Regions from separate parts of the Homo sapiens genome. Here region 2 is linked to region 1. Evidence: fine-mapped expression QTL. Tissue or cell type: whole blood. Region 1 holds a variant in brackets; the other region holds the start of a gene. All regions are shown on one strand. Distances are from middle to middle.

Evidence for each region. PIP is the estimated chance that this variant, and not a neighbour inherited with it, causes the effect.
Region 2: CLDN5 starts here. The variant in region 1 is fine-mapped to the expression of CLDN5 in whole blood (TOPMed, PIP above 0.99).

Annotation. Positions count from the first base shown.
Region 1 is chr22:19,592,043-19,600,143 of GRCh38, reverse strand. No RefSeq gene overlaps it. Among named protein-coding and RNA genes, the nearest start is that of LINC00895, 29 kb to the right of the region's middle. RefSeq lists enhancers at 1,184-1,684, 1,685-2,185, 3,221-3,763. The variant A/G (reference allele first, on the strand shown) is at 4,092.
Region 2 is chr22:19,520,776-19,528,876 of GRCh38, reverse strand. CLDN5 (claudin 5) reads left to right here and starts at 4,467. Exons shown (of 1, transcript NM_001363066.2): 1 at 4,467-5,850. The coding sequence starts at 4,622. The coding sequence ends at 5,278. RefSeq lists an enhancer at 5,852-6,784.

The DNA of each region.
Region 1 (8,101 bases):
CAAAACAAAAGGTACTAAATGGCAAGAACTGCATGCAGGGGGCTTTTGGGACAGTGCCCAGGACACAGGAGCTCAATCAACGTCAGCTGTGACAGTGGTGCAGATGACTAACGTCTGACAGATCTTCTTTCTTTAGAAAAGAACAGCTGTCTTCAGACAGGGCTCCACCCAGAGCTGGGCAACAGGTGACCACTGCCCTGAACATCCCTACGCAGCCCACCCAGCCCTACCCAGCTCCAAGAGGAGCAAGGGTCCAGCCAGACCTGCTCGGACAAGGCCTCATGGGGCCACCTCTGGATCCCGGGCACACCTGCAGGGATAGAGCCACAGGAAGTGGGGGCCGAACTGAAGCTCCACTTCTAGAGTGACCTTGAGGGCAGCAGTGCTCAGGCCAGCTCCTGAGACAGCCATGGGGAGTGGGGAGGTGGTGTTCAATGGGAACAGAGTTTCAGCCTCGGAAGATGACGACGTTCTGGAGATGGTGATGGTGCTGGCTGCTCAACACTGTGAATGTCCTTAATGCACTTAAAAATGGTTAAAGTGGGGCCAGGTGCGGTGGCTCACACCTGTAATTCCAGAACTTTAGGAGACCGAGATGTGTGGATCACTTGAAGTCAGAAGTTCAAGAACAGCCTGGCCAACATGGTGTTGGTACTAAAAAATACAAAAAAAATCAGCCAAGCATGGGGCGCATGCCTATAGTCCCAGCTACTAGGGAAGCTGAGGTAGGAGAATCACTTGAACCCGGGAGGTGGAGATTGCAGTGAGTCGAGATTGTGCCACTGCACACCAGCCTGGGTGACAGAGTCTCCATCTCAAAAAAAAAAAAAATTAAAGTGGGCCAGGCACAGTGGCTCACGTGTGTAATTCCAGCACTTTGGGAGTCCCAGCCTGGAGGATAGTTTGAGGTCAGAAGTTTGGACTAGCCTGGGCAACATAGCCAGACCCTATCTCTACAAACAATTTTTTTTCAAAATCAGTCAGGTACTGTGGCTCACACCTGTAGTCTCAGCTACTTGGGAGGATCACTTGAGCCCAGAAGGCGAGCTGTGCTTGCTCCACTGCACTCCAGCCTGGGCAACAAAGCGAGACCCTGTCTCAAACAAACAAACAAACAAACAAACAAAACATGATTAAAGTAGTGAATGTTGTATGTATTTTACTGTAATGTGTTTAAGAGGGAAAAATCACCTTGGGGAAAGAAAGGAGTACCCAGGAGCACTTCCAAGGTTATACTTAGGTTTTTGCTTCCTAAGCCAGGAAACGTAACTTTGCATTTGATTTATTCTGTACCCATCTTATCAGCACTTTCAGAGAAATAAGAACAGGGAATTGGAGCTCTCACAATAACTGGACAAAGACGGGCAAGAGATTAGAGAGCCCCAGTGCCTGCTGCCACCTCCTGATTCACTTCCCAGGGCGTGAGTGGGCCCTGCCCACACTGTGGTGAGGCCCTCACCCCGCCCTTCCTGGGATGAGGACACAGCCAGCCCTCGCTTGTGATCGATGCATGCAGGCTGCAGCTTTCACCCGGGGGTCACAGCCTCACTCCAACTCACATCAGGCCACATGGCAGCCCCATCGAGTCTTTGGGCCCTGCTGCAGAGGCAGGTGCCATGCCTGCACTGCACATCCAGGTGTGTTGTTGAGCAACCCCCTCCAGACCTTGATGTCATCCTCCTGGGCCCCTCCTCCAAGTCTTGTGCAACCCAGTGGTGTGATGTTTGTGTCCTGCACCCCAGGTCCTGACTGGCACACACCCTTCTCAGCTGGGTTAGCTCCTCCGTGTCTTTCAGGTGCCTGCACCCCAGCAGCAGAGAACCAACTGCATGGTAGCCATGTTCATGCAATCCACTCTCTGTTCCTGGATGCCAGCATCTGGCACCCCGTCCCAGCACACAACAGGATGCATGGATGGTGGCCTGGCGTCATGGACCTGGGGAGACAAGGCAGCCCAGCAGCCCCTGCAGAGCCTCAGGGAACTGTTCCTAAAACAAGTGAACTTGCTTTGGGAATCCAGGAACACCTTTGCTGGAACAATCCAGCCCTTGGGACACCCTAATTTGAAGCCCCCACCACCACCCAGGGGTGCAGCTTTGGCGAGGGGCCGGTCAGGAACAGCTGCTAATCTAGGTGGGGTTTCCTAAGCCCAATTCACCTGCCAGAAAATCAAGCCCTAAATAAGTAATTTGGTTTCCCCTTAGTTTTCTTTCCCTCCCACTGCCCTTTACAACAACCTGCCAGTTTAAGCCAAGGAACAAAGATAGAGACATCCTCTGAGCCCCACCTGCCATTTGTGATAAACATTTCAGAGAATGAGTTAAGCAGTGCTGGAGAAAACAGGAAAAATAAACTCTGAGTCTCTACATAAATATATATTCTATGAAAACCTAAACTTAATCCACCACCAGCACAAGGCAAAGCAAAAGGGCACACACAGCTCTGCCGCCACTACAGAGAAAAAGATCTCTACATGCTGTTCCGCGCGCTCCTGTACAATGCAGAGCTTTGAACTGTTTATAACAGAACACGACAGAGGCACAGTCACAAGAACAGTGATTCTGCCCTTTGAAGCTGCCTGCAGTCAAGTATTACACAGGCAGGAAGTAGAAATCTGTGCTTTGATTTGTTTAAAGTAAATTAAACATAACTGGAAACCATATTTCCTCTCATTCAGAGGAAGTTACAAAAGGTACAGAGGACCAAGAATATCAGGTTCTCATGCAAACGATGAGGTCGGTTCTTCCAAAGCAAAAAAAAAAAAAAAAAAAAAAACAAATACTGGCCTTTAACATACATTCGAAGACCTCACATGTGTTCATTTTGAAGAGATTACCGCTGTGGAAAACAATTTGGAAAAAACTGTTTCAGGTCAAAGTGTAAGTCGTTCAAATAAATGTGCGTCTACGCTTTGGCATCGAGCATTTTTATTTTTTCAAATTCAAGCCTGTGGTCCCTTTGAGCCATTCTTTTCTCCACTGGACTTAGCCATTTTGAAACCTGCCCAGGGAGGAAACGACTCAGGCTCCCTGCAGAGGCAGCCCCATGGGGGCAAGAGGCAGCAACACAGCCTGGGGCCAGGCTCCAGGGCTGCTCTGCAGGGGACGCTGCCTGGGCAGCTGAGAGGCAGTGAGGAGTGAGAGAGAGAGGCCCAAGACCCGGGCACATTGGCCTGCCTGGGAGGACCTAGCCAGTCCCTGCTGGTGCCTCAGATCTGCTGTAGCAGGGGCTCGGCCTGAGCACCCCCGGCCTCTGCCCACCTCGCAGGGCATCATGGGAAGCAGGCATGATGTGCACGCTCTCCGGGCCCTCCAAGTCATGGCCATGGCTCTCCATTAACACAACCACGTGCCCGAGGGCTGAGCCCCAGCAGCAGAGGGTGGTGGGAAGGGCCGGGGCTCAAAGGCCAGGGGTCCCACTCGCTGGCGGCAGGAACCCAGCCTCAGTTCCCCTGTCCGTAAAATGGGGATGATAGATCTTACTTTAAAGAGTTGAGGCCGGGCGCGGTAGCTCAAGCCTGTAATCCCAGCAGTTTGGGAGGCTGAGGTGGGCGGATTACGAGGTCAGGAAATCGAGACCATCCTGGCTAAGACAGTGATACCCCGTCTCTACTAAAAATACAAAAAAAATTAGCCAGGCATGGTGACGGGCGCCTGTAGTCCCAGCTACTCAGGAGGCTGAGGCAGGAGGATGGCGTGAACCCGGGAGGTGGAGCTTGCAGTGCGCCGAGATTGTGCCACTGCACTCTAGCCTGGGCAACAGAGCGAGACTCTGTCTCAAAAAAAAAAAAAAAAAAGAGTTGAGAGGCCGGGCCTGGTAGCTCATGCCTGTAATCTCAGCATGATTTGGGAGGCTGAGACAGGAGGATCACTTAGGCCCAGTAGTTCAACACCAGCCTGGGCAAGATAGTGAGACCCTGTCTCTACAAAAAATTTTAAAAATTAGCCAGGCATGGTGGTGCATGCCTATGATCCCAAATACCTGGGAGGCTGAGGTGGGAGGACTGCTTGAGCTCGGGAGATTGAGACTGCAGTGAGCCAAGATTGTGCCACTGCACTCCGGCCTGGGCAACAAAGCCAGACCATGTCTCA[A/G]AAAAAACAAGCAGCTAAGAAGGAAAACTGTATGGCTGTTTGTTGGCATGACCCCCATCCCTCCATGTGCAGCAGAGGGTGACACCAGGCTGATGTGCAGCACCATTGTGTCTCCACCCTGCTCTCCCATTCTTCTGCATTTCTTTACCTCCCTGAAATCCCTTTTCCGGCCTGGGCCATCTTGTGCTCAAAGAAGCACCTGACAGCATGTGCCAGCTCCTTCCCCAGATACGTTCCCCATTGTGCAGACGTGAGCTTCCCCGCCTTTAGGTCCCTCTCTTAATCCTGTCTCTCTCCTATTCCAGAGTCAGGACCCCAGCTTTCTCCTCCATCTTCCCATCTCCCTGGGGAAGCTCACATCTTCCTACGTCCTCCATTCCAACTCTAAGTCTACACCTCCCAAAACGGTGTCTCTGGGCTCCAGAACTCCTCCTTGAGTCTCAGACCCTCTGAACCAAGAACTTCATCCCGAAACAATCCATCCTCCACTAAACTGGCCTCACACTGTCAAAAGGCAATCTACCACAGCCATGTGGGGCGATTTCTGTGGCCTGCCTGTCTGTCCATTGATCTATCTGTCTATGCCTTCTCCAACACCACCATGTCTGTATGACCGTAGCTTTGTAGTAAGTCTTCAAATCAGATAGTGTGTGTCCTCCAACCATATTCTTCTCTAGAGTAGTGTCTATGGTAGCTTCCTGCCTTTCTCTGTGAATTTTAGAGTCCGCTTGTCGATTTCTACCAAAAAACCTGCAGAGATTTTCACTGGGACTTAGTTTAATTTCTAGATCAGTGTGGGAGAACTGACATCTTGTAAACCTTGGAATATTGACTATTCCAACACAAGAACACAATATACCTCTCCATTTATTTAGGAATTCTTTGATTTTTTTATCAGCATTTTATAGCTTTTTATATATCTTTTTCTTTCTTCTTTTTTTTTTTTTTTGAGACAGAGTCTCGCTCTGTCACCCAGGCTGGAGTGCAATGGTGCGATCTCAGCTCATTGCAACCTCCACCTCCTGGATTCAAGCGATGCTCTTGTCTCAGCCTTCTGAGTAGCTGGGATTACAGGCACCGGCCATCATGCCCTGCTAATTTTTGTATTTTTGTAGAGATGGGGTTTCACCATATTGGCCAGGTTGGTCTTGAACTCCTGACCTCAAGTGATCCGCCCGCCTCGGCCTCCCAAAGTGCTGGGATTACAGGTGTGAGCCACTGTGCCTGGCCTCTTTCTTCCTTGTTGGTATAAAGATGGGCTCCTGCTATGCTGCCCAGGCTGGTCTTGAACTCCTGGGTTCAAGTAATCCTCCTGCCTCAGCCTCTCACAGTGCTGGGATCACAGGCATAAGCCACTGCACCGGCCAAGTTTTATTGTTTTCAGCATGTAGCTCTTGCATATATTTTATAGGATTCATGACCAAATTTGTGTTTTGGTGCTGTCATAAATGGACATGTTTATTTCAATTTTCAGTGGTTTGCTAGTAGATATATTTCCTTGTGAGTTTCGGTAGCTTTTCTGTAGATTCCATCGGATTTTCTACACTGAAAATCCTATCATCTGGGAATAAAGATGGTTTTGTTTATTCCTCTCCAATCTGTATGCCTTTCCTTTTTCTCACCTTTTGCCCTTGCTACAACCTCCAGTACAATGGTGAATAGAAATGATGGGGTCAGACAACCTGGCCTTGCTCTGGCCCTTAGGGGAAAAGTATTCGGTCTTTCACCCTTAGGCATGCTGCTAGTTGTAGGGCATTTGTAGATGCCTTTATCACATTAAGGAAATTCCCTTTAATTCCCGGCTTCCTGTGTTTTGGTCACACATGGGTGTTGGATGTTGTTAAATGCCGTTTCTGGATCTATTGAGCCGATCATAAATGCTTCCTTCTTGAGTTGGCTGATAGGAAGAATTGTGTTGATTGACTTTCGAATGTTGAACTAACCATTTACTCCTGGGATACACTCTACTTGATTATGGTGTATAATCCTTTTTGTACATGGCTGAGTCATATTTGGTAATATTTTGTTGAAGATTTTCACATTTGTGTTCATGAAGGACCTTGATCTATAGTTTTCTTTTCTTCCAAGCCTGGTTAAGCAGCAAAGTCACTGGCAGACTAGTTTGATTTTTTTGAGGCAGGGCAGATGAGCCCTAAAGTGGGGCTTAGCCCTCAAGAGTTCTTGGCCTCACCCAGGAAAGAATTCAAGAGCAAGCTGGTGGTAGGAGAAACAGCTTTTACTGAAGCAGCAGTGTTGCAGCTCCGTGACTGCTCCTGCAGAGCAGGGGGACCCCATAGGCAGAGAGTAGCAGCTCAGGGCAGCTTTGCAGGCATACTTATACCTACTTTTAATTACATGCAGATTAACGAGTGGTTTATGCAGAAATTTCTAGGGAAGCAGTAGGAACTCCTGGGTTGTCCGGTCATTGCCATGGAAAGGAGAGGTCAATTCTGGGTGTTGCCATGGCAATGGTAAACTGACATGGCACACTGGTGGGTGTATCTTAGGGAAAGCTGCTTCTGCCCCCTCCCTGTTTAGCTAGGCCTCAATTTGGTCCCTTGCATGAGCCAAGCCTCCAGATTGGGGCCCGCCTCCAACCTCACTTTGAAGCCTTGTTTTAAGCTCTGCAGGGGAGGGTCTAAGACACCCTTACTCTAGAGCTTATTTGCTCCACTACTAAGGTGGGGCTCTTCAGGGGTCTCTAGGGCATCCCGGGAGTTCAGTGAGAGCCATCCACTGAGTCTGGCTGCCACCCGAGCATCTCCCAGAACAGGTGAACTCTTGGACTCAGCTGCCTTTCTGCTCCTGGTCACTCGTTCTTTCCTGTCTCCACGACGTTGCACACCGCACACACACAGCTTAGGATCTCCCAATGCTCGGGGCAACCCTGAGGATTACTGGAGCCCCCTCTCTGCAGTGTTCCCATCCCTCCAGGACTCAGCCCACAAACCACAGCTGTTCAGAGCCCCCCATCTCCGCTCCTCAATGCAGCCAAGCCACTCGCACTGCTTGATGTGCATGAAGCACCCCCGACCCCACCAAGGCAGAAACCCAGGGCAGCTGCGGCGCCTTGCCATCTCATTTCTGTAGACTCTGGGGTCACAGCTCTGCATGGCCTGTTTCTCAACACCTGAAAACAGTTGATTCAGACATTTTGTCCAGGTTTCCAGCTGCTTAGGGTAGCGGAGTATGTGCACCATAGCTAACCCACCTTGTTGTTGATGACGTGACCTTGGAATAGTCCACACCAGGCCAGGCCAGCCAAGCCCCTGTACCTGACCAACCTCATGGCAGATACCACCCTCAAGTAGCCATTTGTCCAGCCCCAAGAGTGGCCCTCACTAAAGCAGCTTCCAAAATGTTAATGCCAGGACATTTCTTGTGGCGGAATTCTGATAGAAGAGGGACGGTGGAGGAGGGCAGCACCCACTCTCAAATGCTGTGGCATGAACTGCATGGAAGACAAATTATGAACAGTGATTTTTTACAAATTGCATAAAACCAAGAAGAGTTAAACAAAATTCACGATAGTGAAAATTTGGGTAAAATTAAATACCAGTCAGAGAGGAATGTCTCTTCTCTATAATATATTACAGTATGTTAACCTGACAGATTACTATTTGGCTGTCAAAAATAAATAATGTGGGCACAGTGGCTCATGTCTATAATCCCAGGACTGTGGAAGCTGAGGCAGGAGGGTCCCTTGAGGCCAAGAGTTCAAGACCAGTCTGGGCAACATAGCGAGACTCCATCTCTACAAAAAATGTAAAAATTAGCCGAGCATGATGGTACACACCTGTGGTCCCAGCTACTCAGGGAGCTGAGGCAGAAGGATGGCTTGAGCCTGGGAGGTTGAGGCTGCAGTGAGCTATGATTGTACCACTGCACTGCAGCCTGGGTGACAGAGTGAGACCCTGTCTCAAATAATAATAATAATAAATAATGTGATATGAAAGAGATGTTTACAAACAAAACTGAGAAGAAAGAACCTAAATTGTCCCCACACAATG
Region 2 (8,101 bases), 71 kb after region 1:
GCTGGTCTCGAACTCCTGACCTGAGGTGATCCGCCCGCCTCGGCCTCCCAAAGTGCTGGGATTACAGGCCTGAGCCACTGCGCCCGGCCTTTCCTCTCCATGCTTTTAAGACTTTCTCTTTAGCACCAGTTTTACGAAATTTGGTTTATGATGTACTTTGGTGGACTTTTTTTTTTTTTTGAGATGGAGTCTTGCTGTGTTGCCCAGGATGGAGTGCAATGGCATGATCTCGGCTCACTGCAACCTCTGCCTCCCAGGTTCAAGGGATTCTCCCACCTCAGCTACCCGAGTAACGGATTACAGGTGCGTGCCACCACGCCCAGCTAATTTTAGTATTTTTAGTAGAGACGGGGTTTCACCGTGTTGGACAGGCTGGTCTCAAACTCCTGACCTCAAGTGATCCGCCCACCTCGGCCTCCTGAATGGAATTACAGGCGTGAGCCACTGCGCTTGGCCTGGCTTGCCATTCTATAGAACCCTTGACCCTTCGTGGATCACACCAGAGCTCCCTGCCCCCCACTCCCTCACCCGCTGGGGAAGTTAAAGCCACAGTGACCTCCAATTCTGACTAACAGCCAGCGATGACTACCCTGAGGGGTGCGGCTGAGGTTGGATGAGCTGTGAAGGCCCTGGGAGCCTGGGTGGATGGCACTCAGGAAAGGCAGAAGAGAACCGGGACTGGCATCGGCCTCCCCTGCAGCCTCGCAGCCTCCACCATTGGGGGGCTTCGTTACCAGTGAGGAACTAAGGCAGAGAGGCCACCTCACTAGTCCAGAAAGTTTCTTGCTTGCGGGAGCGAATCTGACTCCATGCCTGTGTTTAACCACAAAGAGTAACAACAATGCCCGCAAAACCGCCGAGTCTGGCACTGTCCACTCTGGATGCTGCTCACATCGTCACAGCCGCCCAGGGGCCCCACACAGGGTGCCTCGGGCACCTGGTGCAGTGGTCAGGGATGCAGGAGGACCCCAGCTGCTGCTCTCGGCCTGCAGGAGTACTGGCTTGTGTCAAGAAAGAGCACCAGGCCACACTGTGCTTGGAGGCTCTGCAAACATTTGCGGAAATAGAAGGACACATCCTTAACTGTTTCAAAACTGAAAGATAGAAGAAACGCTGTTCTTCACTTCCCCTGAAATCAAATCTGTTAACTAGGAGTTTCCCAAACCCAAATCCCCAGGAATCTTGAGCCTAAATTTAGCTTATCCTTGGAAGGTCACGGGATTACCCTGGGGCAGGGTCAGCCAGCAGCTGCTCAAGATAAACTTGGCTTTTCTGCAGACTCAGGCTCTTCTCACACACAATTAATGAGATCCTGCCATTCTTCCCCTGGGAAAGCAGAACAATGGCTGGGGGTGAGCAGGTGGCCTTGGCCAGTGCTCTGCCCCAAGGGCCCTTTACCAGAGATCAGGGGTTTGTGTCCCTGCCTAACCAGGACACCTCCGATCTCCACCTGCAGGCCCTGGACCACTGTGGCACTGTGGACACAAGGCCGCTTCTGCCCCTTGGACGCCGAGCCCCTTCCCACCTCTGGGATCTTGCACTGGCTATTGCTTCTGCTCTGCCTGGAACTTCTTCCCCGGATCCCTGTGAAATGTCACCTCTTCAGAGAGGCCTTCACCACTGTCTTTCCTGCCCAGTTCTTGGTTGATAGGTTCCTGTCAGCTCCTTCTGGGCAGGAGCTTCTTGTGCTGTGTGCTCTGCCTAGAGACAGTGCTTGCCACGAAGTAGGTGAGCAGACCCTCCATGAGTGGCAGGAAAGGTGGGTGCACCCTCATGCCCCTCCGGAGTCTGGCCTGGGCTACTCAGAGGCCAGCCTCCATCTGAGGTGGGTTTGTCTGGGGTGGCGTCAGCCCCTGCGGCCCTCTCTGGGCCTCTCTGCATTGGCATTGTTCCACTGCAGCCTGGGGCCTCGACCAACATAGTGGGGTCAGGGTAGAAACCAGATTGTGAAAGGTGAAGCCTGAGACTCCTCTGCCACGTCCCTGAGATGCTGTGAGGCTGCCGCCAAAGAAACATGAGCTTGCTGGGGCCACCCTAGGGTGACAGCTAGGAGAGAAGAAAAACAGGCAGCCAGGTGAGAAGGGAGAGCCTTGGGCTGGCTGCAGCTCCAAGCTGGCTAGAGGGCAACAGGCAGCCTCCTGTGCAGGACAGACGCATGAAGACAGCCACCCTGTGGAGGTTATTCCTGGATACTAGGTGGGAAAGTCGGCAAGCAAAAGGACAGGTCCAGCTCAAGCTTCTAAAAGCAATGCTGGGGGACGGTGCAGCAAGGTGTTCCTGGAAATGACCTCGGCAACACATCTTAGAAGATGAGCAGGACCCAACCTGACAGATACACGCTGCGGGCAGAAGAGGCCAAGGTAAGAGACGGCCCATGTGAGGCCCATAGGCAGGTAAGTCTCCTGGGGCAGAGTGTGTGCTCAGGGCCGCACCAAGACTGGTGGCTGGACTGGCCAGTCCTAGCGCATGCAGGTACACATCAATCCAGCTGCTCTGGGAGTCGGCTCTTCGTCCATGGGCAATGTGAGCCATGGAGGGTCTTAGGTAGGGTGAGGCCCAGGAGAGGGGCCTGGTGGGGTGGGTGGCCTAGCTGGGCAAGGGCAGGTCCCTGATGACCTGAGGAGGCCGCAGCAGTCATCCCAGGAAGATGGTGGCATGGAAGGGCTGGGAGTAGGGGGATCTGGGGAAGTTCCCTGGGCTTGGGTTAGGGGGTAGTAAGAGTGAGAGGGTGGGTGGGTCAGCTGTACCCCTGGAGTACACAGAGGAGGAGATGTCCAGGAGGGTCTGTAGAGGAAGGGGCATGGCCCATGGGTCTGCAGCAGGAGGAAGGCAGTGACTAAAGTGATAGCTGGGAGAAGGCAGTGGTCCTCAGAGCCATACCTGGTGGGGAGAGGCCACGTGGGGCTGAGCAAAGAGGGTATGATTTCCTTCCAGCCTCAGGGCTGGGCACACTTGCCTTCAGAACCTCCCCACACTAGGTGAGCCAGACGCTGGCCTTATCTCATTTACCATCTCAGAGCCATCTGAAGGGGGAGAAGGGAACCGGGCCCCAGGAGGGAGAAAGTCATCAAACCTCCCACATCTGTGACCAGCCTCAGTGCCATACTTTTTCTATGGAGGGCCCTGTCCAATGGAACTGAGCACAGACCAGATAAAAGAACTGGGCACCCAGTGGCCTCAGTCCAGGGCCTGGAGTTCAAACTTTACTGGAAACAAAGGGGCCGAGAGAGACTGGGGAAAGAACTACTAGAAAGGGGCTGGTGCCCCCATGGGGCTGTGGGTTTTGGAGCCGCGTGCCCCCACCTGAGCCTCAGGGGGCCCGGAGTGTCCACACCAGTGGACCTTTCGAGAAATGGCTGGGCCATTGTGCAGAAGAATGCCCGGAAATCCCGCGCCTCCCTCCTCCAGCAAGGATGGGGGCTCTTCCTCCTGGCCAGGAAACTCCAAGTTGGCTTCCGGAGGGTGGCCTGGGGGCTGGGGTGCCAGGGACACCATCGCCACTGGTGGGAGGGCAGGGCACAGCCCCTCCGTGTCCCTTTGTCTCTCCTGTCTGAAGGCCAGAGCAGGCTGCTAGGCCTGGGGCCACCACTGCCCCTGGGTGCTACACCCAGTGTGCTGGGTCACTGGGAACTTCCTGAAGTGGTGTCACCTGAACTGGGCCCCCAAGGATGGGGTGCGGGCAGTACCGCAGGAAGAGGAGCAGCCCCTGTGAAGATTGAGAGGTCTGGGAAGCCCCTGCGGCTTGGGAGAGTGGGGGTCGCCAGGCAGGGGGAAAGCCCCTGTGCCACCGCTTTTTGCCAGAGACTCAGGCTCCAGAGAGGCAGTGAGTGGCATGGGGGGTGAGGCTGGGGCCCTGGGCCTGACCTCCACACGCCTGCCTGGCCTCTCTGTTTGCCATGGGATGAGAGAGACAGTGCTGGGACTCAGAGCGGGGCTGGAGAGTGAGAGTGCGAGAAAGGGCCTGGGTGGGGCTTGGACCCCGGGGCGGGCTTTCTGGAGAGCCCCCCTACGAGGGCCTCTACGGCGGTGACGGGGTGGGGGGCTTCTGCAAACCTTGGTCAGGGAAGTGGAGCTGGCTCGAGTGGAAGAGACCACCCGGCTCAGTCGGGGATGTGGGAGTGGACTGGGTGGTGCAGACTGGGGGTCGAGCGCCTTCTGAAGTGACGGGGCCGGGACGCGCAGGGAGGCGGCCCAAGAAGCGCGCCCTAGGCCAGCCCAGAATGCGCTCGGCCGCGACTAGGACAACGGCGGGTGGGGCTGGGGGCGGCTGCCGGGCGGGGAGCGGTCCCGCGCCCTCAGCTACCCCTCAAGAGCCGTTGTTTCCCTAACTTCAGCTGCCAGAGGCTCTGTGATTGGCTGCGGCACGATGACCCGCGCACGGATTGGCTGCTTCGGGCCGGGGGGCCGGGCCCGGGGGACAGAATCCGCCCCCGAACCTTCAAAGAGGGTACCCCCCGGCAGGAGCTGGCAGACCCAGGAGGTGCGACAGACCCGCGGGGCAAACGGACTGGGGCCAAGAGCCGGGAGCGCGGGCGCAAAGGCACCAGGGCCCGCCCAGGGCGCCGCGCAGCACGGCCTTGGGGGTTCTGCGGGCCTTCGGGTGCGCGTCTCGCCTCTAGCCATGGGGTCCGCAGCGTTGGAGATCCTGGGCCTGGTGCTGTGCCTGGTGGGCTGGGGGGGTCTGATCCTGGCGTGCGGGCTGCCCATGTGGCAGGTGACCGCCTTCCTGGACCACAACATCGTGACGGCGCAGACCACCTGGAAGGGGCTGTGGATGTCGTGCGTGGTGCAGAGCACCGGGCACATGCAGTGCAAAGTGTACGACTCGGTGCTGGCTCTGAGCACCGAGGTGCAGGCGGCGCGGGCGCTCACCGTGAGCGCCGTGCTGCTGGCGTTCGTTGCGCTCTTCGTGACCCTGGCGGGCGCGCAGTGCACCACCTGCGTGGCCCCGGGCCCGGCCAAGGCGCGTGTGGCCCTCACGGGAGGCGTGCTCTACCTGTTTTGCGGGCTGCTGGCGCTCGTGCCACTCTGCTGGTTCGCCAACATTGTCGTCCGCGAGTTTTACGACCCGTCTGTGCCCGTGTCGCAGAAGTACGAGCTGGGCGCAGCGCTGTACATCGGCTGGGCGGCCACCGCGCTGCTCATGGTAGGCGGCTGCCTCTTGTGCTGCGGCGCCTGGGTCTGCACCGGCCGTCCCGACCTCAGCTTCCCCGTGAAGTACTCAGCGCCGCGGCGGCCCACGGCCACCGGCGACTACGACAAGAAGAACTACGTCTGAGGGCGCTGGGCACGGCCGGGCCCCTCCTGCCAGCCACGCCTGCGAGGCGTTGGATAAGCCTGGGGAGCCCCGCATGGACCGCGGCTTCCGCCGGGTAGCGCGGCGCGCAGGCTCCTCGGAACGTCCGGCTCTGCGCCCCGACGCGGCTCCTGGATCCGCTCCTGCCTGCGCCCGCAGCTGACCTTCTCCTGCCACTAGCCCGGCCCTGCCCTTAACAGACGGAATGAAGTTTCCTTTTCTGTGCGCGGCGCTGTTTCCATAGGCAGAGCGGGTGTCAGACTGAGGATTTCGCTTCCCCTCCAAGACGCTGGGGGTCTTGGCTGCTGCCTTACTTCCCAGAGGCTCCTGCTGACTTCGGAGGGGCGGATGCAGAGCCCAGGGCCCCCACCGGAAGATGTGTACAGCTGGTCTTTACTCCATCGGCAGGGCCCGAGCCCAGGGACCAGTGACTTGGCCTGGACCTCCCGGTCTCACTCCAGCATCTCCCCAGGCAAGGCTTGTGGGCACCGGAGCTTGAGAGAGGGCGGGAGTGGGAAGGCTAAGAATCTGCTTAGTAAATGGTTTGAACTCTCTCCCACCTGTGTCCTGTTCTCTGTCCAGCCATCTTCCGTGTCCAGCAGCCCCATTCATCACCCACCAGCCCCGCCCTCCCAAGGACTCCTGTGGAGACCTCCTCCCAGGGCTGGAGGCTGGGGCTCTTTTCCCCATCCTCCCTGCCACCTTCCCACCAGGTGGGAGACACAGCCACCACTTACTACAGCCCAGAAAGGCGGGATCTGCGGTCAGAAGAGCTGCTGCGTCATGGGGCCCTGGGGCCCGGGATGGGACAGGGGCGGGGGCAGCGGCAGACCCCAGCAGAAGATGCGGGGTGAAGCGCCCTCAACACAGGCTGGTGAGTGGGGGTCCTGCGGTGTGGGAAGTGCTGGGGGTGAGCAGCCAGGCCGCTGGCTTCTCCCAGAAAGGGCCAAGCCCCACACAGCACAGGGTGAGGTTTTCCACTGCCCTCTCAGGGCTTGCCTAGTCCCAAGCCCCATCAAGTGGCCACAGAGGTCTGTAGAATCCCCGACCAGGCCCTTTCCAATGGTGGGTGGGGCAGGAACAGGGGTGAATGCAGGACACGCCGGTCAACAGTAGGGTTGCCATGGGAGGAGGTGCTGGCAGCTGGTTGCCTGGAGTACCACAGCTTGGCTCTAGCCCCTCGTCCTGGCTCCTCTGCCAGTCCCAGCGCAGCTCCCTACAGAGCCTGTACCCACCCTGCTGGCCTGGCAGCCTGCCCAGAATGGTGCTCACAACCAGCACCTGTGCCAGCCCCTGCTGGGGGCACTCTGGGTAACCTTCCTCCTCCAGGGGCTGTGTGGCCTGGGAGTCAGTGCTGGCCCCTGCCAGGCACCTCGGAATGGGGGTGTCTAGAGCCATCTAACATAGCCACTGAGAGCTCACTGTTTTTAGCCTTGTTCTAGGCACTTTGAATTAACACATTTTTGACATTTGACATAAAGCTAGAAGCAGAAGAGAGCAGCTGATGAAGGGGGCATGCTGCAGGGAAGAGCTCTAAGCCCAGCCGGAAGGGAGACTTGGTATCTGCCCCAAACTGGACTTGGGGGCCCTGCCCAGAAATGTCTGGGCCACATCCAGTGGCAGGGAGTCTCCTAGGTCTGGCCAGGCTACCATCATGGAGCAGTGGGAGAACCCCAAGAATGCAGGCTCAGAGTGGCTTAGGGCAGCTGCTGGAATGTGTGGCAGCTTCCTGGGAGCTGCTGTGGAACCAGCCGGTGGGATGAGTTACAGGGAGAGGGGCCCCACGGTGCAGAGGTCCTCAGCAGGCCTGACCTGTACCCCACCTGGGCCTGTACAACAGGGACCAAGAATAGTCCCCAAGCTTGGGAGTGTGTGATCCCAGAGCTGTGGCCCTGGGCAGAGCCAAAAACAATGGTCCTTACACTCTTGCACCTGGCCACCGGGACTGGGTAGTACCAGGTCTGGTGTGTTTGGTCAGAAGCTGAGGCCCAAGGCTGCCTGGGAGGGCATTCCTAAGAAAGCCTTTTCCTAAGAAAGGACAGGCACGGGGCTGGGCACGGTGGCTCACGCCTGTAATCCCAGCACTTTGGAAGGCCGACGTGGGCGGATCACAGGGTCAGGACATCAAGACCATTCTGGCCAACGTGGTGACACCCGTCTGTACTAAAAATACAAAAATTAGCTGGGCGTGGTGGTGTGTGCCTGTAATCCCAGCTACTCGGGAGGCTGAGACAGGAGAACCACTTGAACTCGGGAGGCAGAGGTTGCAGTGTGCCGAGATCGCACCAACTGCACTCTAGTCTGGTGACAGAGCGAGACTCTGTCTCAAAAAAAGGAAAGAAAGGGCATGGAAAGGAAGCTGCACAGCCTTTGAATTTTCCCAAATGGCCAGGGTAGGCAGCTCAAGGGTCCCGGGAAGCTGTGCAAACCACCAGAGGTGAGGGGAGGGGCCCAGCCTCCAGTCCAGCTCTCACCCTTTTGTGCCCACTGCCCTTTGCCAAGGGCTGCACCAAGACCAGCCCCACCTACCTGTGTGCTCTTTTCCAGGCCACTCTTTCTGAGCTTTTCCCCACTGACTTAAAACCTACCCAAATCACTCCTGCCTTCAAAGACCTGGAAAAGAGTGCTGGATGGTGAGACCCACAGGTGGAGGGATGGCTGAGAGGGTGGACTTGCTATGTGGCTGAGGCCAGGTGGACCAGAGGAAGTGGTAGGTGGACAGAGCCAGGTGCTGGCTGGCACCACCAGGCAGTGGCCGGTGCAGGTGCTATGAGGAGGCGGGGATGCCGAGGGGTCCTGACCTCT